Regions from separate parts of the Homo sapiens genome. Here region 1 is linked to region 2. Evidence: fine-mapped expression QTL. Tissue or cell type: whole blood. Region 2 holds a variant in brackets; the other region holds the start of a gene. All regions are shown on one strand. Distances are from middle to middle.

Region 1 (2,649 bases), 27 kb before region 2:
TAATAACAGTGGCAGAGGCATCAGGAACAGCAGCAACCATCATTTCCAAGTGCCAGGCCCAGTACGTAAGACTATCCCCATTCATTTATTTTTACTTATTTTTGAGACAGGGTCTCGCTCTGTCACCCAGGCTGGAGTGCAGTGGTGCAATCTCGGCTTACTGCAGCCTCAACTTCCCAGGGTCAAGCGATCCTCCCACCTCAGCCTCCCTAGTAGCTGGGACTACAGGTGCGAACCACCACGCTTAGCTAATTTTTTTTTTTTTTTTTGAGACAGAGTCTCACTCTGTTGCCCAGGCTGGTGTGCAGTGGCACAATCTTGGCTCACTGCAACCTCCGCCTCCTGGGTTCAAGCGATTCTCCTGCCTCAGCCTCCTGAGTAGCTGGGACTACAGGCTCGTGCCACCACGCCTGGCTAATTTTTTGTATTTTTAGTGGAGACGGGGTTTCACCATGTTAGCCAGGATGGTCTCGATCTCCTGACGTCATGATCCACCCGCCTCGGCCTCCCAAAGTGCTGGGATTACAGGCGTGAGCCACCGCGCTCGGCCTAATTTTTATATTTTTTGTAGAGATGGAGTCTCACTCTGTCTCCCAGGCTGGTCTCGAACTCCTGAGTTCAAGCAGTTCTCCCGCCTCAGCCTCTGAGTGTTGGGATTACAGGTGTGACCACCGCGCCGAGCCCCACTCCCTTTTTAAACCAATGCACAGGGAGCATCTACTATGTGCGAGGCACCCTCCATTTTACAGATGGGGAAACTGAGTTCCAAGCAGCTTTTGCCAGGAGTGGGAGCGCACCGTCCCTGCCCAGTCTCTCCAGTTGGGCGTTCCGAGACCACCTATGTAGGGTATTCGGCTAGCGCTCAATTAAACCGAAACACCGTCGCAGCGACCACAGGTGCAGACCACCAAGTCCACACCGCCAGCCGCCCGGGCGTCCCCAATTAGCAGTTGGGGCGGGACCAAGTCCTCGAGCTGCCGCCGCAGCGGCGGTTGAAAGCCCCACCCCCTGCGCGTGCGCGGTGCGCGTCCCGTCTTCCTGCTGGGCACCAGGCGCCCGCGAAGAGCGCGCGCGCTTCCGCCGGCGTCGGGCTCGCGCACGCGCACGGCGACGGCGGCGGTGGCGGCAGTTCCTGCTCTAGGCTGCGAGCGGCTGGCGGCTTCGAGGGGAGCTGAGGCGCGGAGGGGCTCGGCGGCAGCGGCGGCGGCTCGGCACTGTTACCTCTCGGTCCGGCTGGCGCCGGGGCGCGCGGTTTGGTCCTTTCCGGGCGCGCGGGGGCGACAGCGGCAGCGACCCGAGGCCTGCGGCCTAGGCCTCAGCGCGGCGGCGGGCTCGAGTGCAGCGCGGAACCGGCCCGAGGGCCCTACCCGGAGGCACCATGAGCGTGGAGGCGTACGGGCCCAGCTCGCAGACTCTCACTTTCCTGGACACGGAGGAGGCCGAGCTGCTTGGCGCCGACACACAGGGCTCCGAGTTCGAGTTCACCGACTTTACTCTTCCTAGCCAGACGCAGACGCCCCCCGGCGGCCCCGGCGGCCCGGGCGGTGGCGGCGCGGGAGGCCCGGGCGGCGCGGGCGCGGGCGCTGCGGCGGGACAGCTCGACGCGCAGGTGAGCGGCACATGGCGGTGCCGGAAGCCCGGGCCCGGCCTCGGCGCCTGAGACCTGCCCCGAACTCGCCTCGGGCCCGGCCTGTGTTTGGCCGGAGTCCCCCATCGCGGCCGGGCCTGGGGCGATCTGCCCCGGGTCCCCTACTCTGGCTCGGCCTGAGCTTACCTGCCCCAGGTCCTGCAATCTGCCCGGGCCTGGCCTGATCTGCCCCGGGTCCCCCGCTCCGGCCGCGACCTGGCTGAGTTCCTTCGGCCCCCAACTCCTGGGCCGGGCAGACTTGCCTCGAGTCCTCCACTTCGTTCGGGACCGAGCTAACCTGACCCTGTTCCTTTACGCCAGCTGGGTTTGCTCCCCCTCCTGGGCCCGGGCTGACCTGCCTTGTGTCCCACAATCAGTCTGGCCTGGAGTAACCTGCCCCCTGACTTATCTGAGTTCTTCCATTCCATCCGGGCTAGGGTGACCTGCCCTGGTCCCTCTTTCGCAGGTCTCGGTATTCTGCCTCGAGTTCTCCTACGACCTGGGCCGGGTCTTGCTCAGGCCGGAGCTTGAGTGACTTCCCTCAGTCCCTTTCCGGGAGTATCCAGGGTGACCTGCCCTAATCCTGTCTCTGGCCTGGTCCGGGGGTCCTGCCCGGTCTCCCCATTGGTGGGTCTGGCCGCCTGTCCCACCTCCCATCTGTGGTCGCAGCCATCTGGGCACCCCACCTTTCACAGTCACGGAGCGTAGGTTCGACTTTCCCCATGCATAGGGGCGCTGGCCAGCGGAAGGTTGAGGCAGAGAAGAATTTTTGCCTCCCATGGAGGAGCACATATTGGCTGGCTATTAAGATCATTCAGGAAGCAGGTTGTATTTTGTTTTTTCTTGCATCGCCTGTTGCTGAAACCGACCTGTTACATAACTTCACAACTCTTGCCTTGGAAAAGTTGGGTTTGAGTTTTGTTCTTCCAATAAGACAGCAATAATGGCTTTACATAAACGAGTCTGCCACGTTGGAAACTTATTTTTAATGATGTGGATGTTTAGAGAAGGTTACTTAGGTA
Region 2 (2,839 bases):
TTGGGCAGACTTTTTCCAAAAATGATCGAACCTGTCGCTTCATGGAGAACTAGTGGCAACATCTGTTACAGTAGTAAAATTCAAGTGAAAACCAGAATTTTGGAAAACTTAACGTCGCTTGCCATGAGCTTGGTGTCTTCCCAACACCTAGAGACTTTTCTGGTGAGGTCTGTGGGGGTGACAGATGGAATGTTTCCACCATTGCCAGTGAAATGTGTCAGCCTTTGGAAGACCTACTTGACTCGGTGGGAGATCCTTCCTGAATGACCAGCAGAGTGTCACGAAGTCACATGGGGATGGAGTGGCAAAGAGTTGTCACAGGCCTGCAGAAACCCACCTTTGTCCAGCTTGATGTGGCCTCAGGGCTGGAGACTCCCAGCCATGCAGAAAGGCTGTAAAAACAAACCCATCTCCCTTTCCAGCCTCAGGCATCCATGAGGCCTGGCTTCCCCACAGCGTCCCCAGAGCCCAGGAGGGTGGACTGAGCAGAGGTGGACCCCAGGGCCCAGCTGCCTCCGATTCAGCCAGATAGTAAGGAGATTTGCAGAAATGGGAGACAGGACCACTCTTCTTACTTAGCTTATTTTTGGAGAAATAACTAACACGTAATGGGTTATTTTTAAATGAATTAATATATTTTTTAAATTTCCAAGTTTAGAGAATACAGTTATCCAATAAACAAAAGCTGTTTGGACTCCCTAACTTTTGAGAGTGTAAAGGGTCCTGAAAGCTGCCGACACAGCGCCTCATGAACTCCAAACCTGTGAGGTTGGTATTGTCAGGCCTAGTTACAGGAGAAAGTGAGGCTCAGAGCCCACCCCCCGGGTTGGGCCACACCACTCTTTGCCTAGCGGTAGGTCTTGGGAGTTGATGCCACTATTGACATCGCAGGGACACCGCTGTTCCCAGCGCATGGCAAGGCTGAAAACACAAGGCCACAGAGACCTAGCTTGTGCTCTGGGGTGTCTGAGCACTGGCTGGGAAAGGCGTGGCTCGGCGCAGGCTCAGACCCCTCATGGTCCCCAGGGCATCGGCCCAGAGGGCAGACGCTGGTGCACACTGCTCTCTAATTGATGCACAGCACGTAGTTCACACCCAGGAAGTACATTTTAGGAAATTCTCTATTGAAGTGTAAACATGTGGCCACATTACAAGTGTCTGGCTCAATGAGTGGTTACTAAGTGAGCATATTTGGATAGCCAGCACCTGAACCCAGAACCACCTGACCAGCTGTGAGAAGCCGCCTCATCCCTGCAGGTGGCCACTGTCCAGGGGTGCGCATCCACAGCAGCCCCTGGGCTGAGGGACTTCTGAGCTCATCCGGCGGCCCCTGTGCTCGCTGTAACA[G/A]CAGTGATCCACTTGGCCTCATTTTCAGCTCGACGTGGGATCATATGATGTGTCCTGGCGTGTCTGGCTTCCTCTGTCCATGTCAGGCTGGTGCTGTGCAAAAACACCGGTTTTCTCCACTGATGGAAGCTCCCAGTAGAGTGAGGAGGGCACCTGTGAATTGAGAAACTGGTTTTACAGTTTTAAGGAAACGCAACAGGGCCCAGAAAAGCCAAGATGAGCATGAAGAGCCCGAAGAAAGTGGCTGCTCACATGGCAGGACGCCCCGGCCCCCAAGCTGCAGTGTTGGGCCCCGGCCCAGGAGGGAGCCCAGAGGCAGAGCCACCGGTCAACAGGCCCTCAGCAGGAATGGACAAGGCTGCAGGGCAGGGGGACACTGTTGGCTCAACAGTGTCACACACAAGTCAGTTGTAGGGGCTGTGGCGCCTTTAAGGCAAGCTTCTGGAAGGAAGCAGGAGAATATCCTGTATCCTGGGGTTGGCAGAGATCCAGGCTGCAAGAAAGCCCTGGCTGAGACCCTGTTCCCTGTTCAGGGGCTGAGCCAGCTCTGTGCTGGCCATGGTGCTCTCGGTGGCCTCTCCTCAGCCTTGCCCAATCCTGGGCATCTCTGGCCAGGGGACCGGCTCAGGTGACCTCACCAGGGCCTCACAGATCGAAGTCTCCTGCCCCAGGACCTGCAGCACTGTAGCGTAGCAACTACATTGCCCTGTGTCTGAACTCATTTGAGGCGGGCTAGGGCTTTTGAAGTGTTACTTCTTTCCCTCCCCTCACAGCGGATCGTGTGAAGAAGGGATTTGACTTCCAGTGGCCCCAACCCGATAAACCGATGTTCTTCTACGTGACCCAGGGCCAAGAGGAGATTGCCAGCTCGGGCACCTCCTACCTGAACAGGTGAGCAGGGACAGGCCCACCGGCGTCTGCAGGTCTTGGGGACAGCTTGAGAGGTTGTTGACCCATTCTACTTATTTTTAACATGGGACTGAAACTTTTTTTGCCTTCATTTCCTGTTTAGCCTGTTTAGACTCTAAACCGTGTTGTTTCTGCCTCCTTTTCCATTGTACTTGTTTTTTATTGGGCAGATACTTGCTAATCCCACATGGCAGCCGTTTCTGCCCCTCGAGACTCCCCTGGTGAAGGCTGGGGAAGCTCAGCTGTGCAAACGCCAGTGATGGCAGCTGCCTTCCCGCAGGGTGTTGTGTCTGCACCCCTCACGGCCTCCAGCCTCAGGGCTCGGGATCCCACAGGTGGAGCCCAGCACTGACAGCCTGGGTTTCTTAGGACCGAGGCTGCGAACGTGGAGAAGATCACCACGAAGTTGCTGAAGGCAGGCGCCAAGCCGGACCAGATTGGCATCATCACGCCCTACGAGGGCCAGCGCTCCTACCTGGTGCAGTACATGCAGTTCAGCGGCTCCCTGCACACCAAGCTCTACCAGGTGCGCTGCGCCCTCGGGCACACTTGGTCTCCTGGGCCATGCAAGGGTATTGACCCT

The links. PIP is the estimated chance that this variant, and not a neighbour inherited with it, causes the effect.
Region 1: UPF1 starts here. The variant in region 2 is the best candidate, but not a certain one, in a credible set for the expression of UPF1 in whole blood (INTERVAL, PIP 0.55).

The regions. Positions count from the first base shown.
Region 1 is chr19:18,830,832-18,833,480 of GRCh38, forward strand. UPF1 (UPF1 RNA helicase and ATPase) reads left to right here and starts at 1,128. Exons shown (of 24, transcript NM_002911.4): 1 at 1,128-1,609. The coding sequence starts at 1,379. RefSeq lists silencers at 932-1,191, 1,312-1,411, 1,562-1,651, 1,662-1,741.
Region 2 is chr19:18,858,201-18,861,039 of GRCh38, forward strand. It overlaps UPF1 (UPF1 RNA helicase and ATPase), which reads left to right. Exons shown (of 24, transcript NM_002911.4): 16 at 2,121-2,238; 17 at 2,626-2,782. Among named protein-coding and RNA genes, the nearest start is that of UPF1, 28 kb to the left of the region's middle. The variant G/A (reference allele first, on the strand shown) is at 1,348.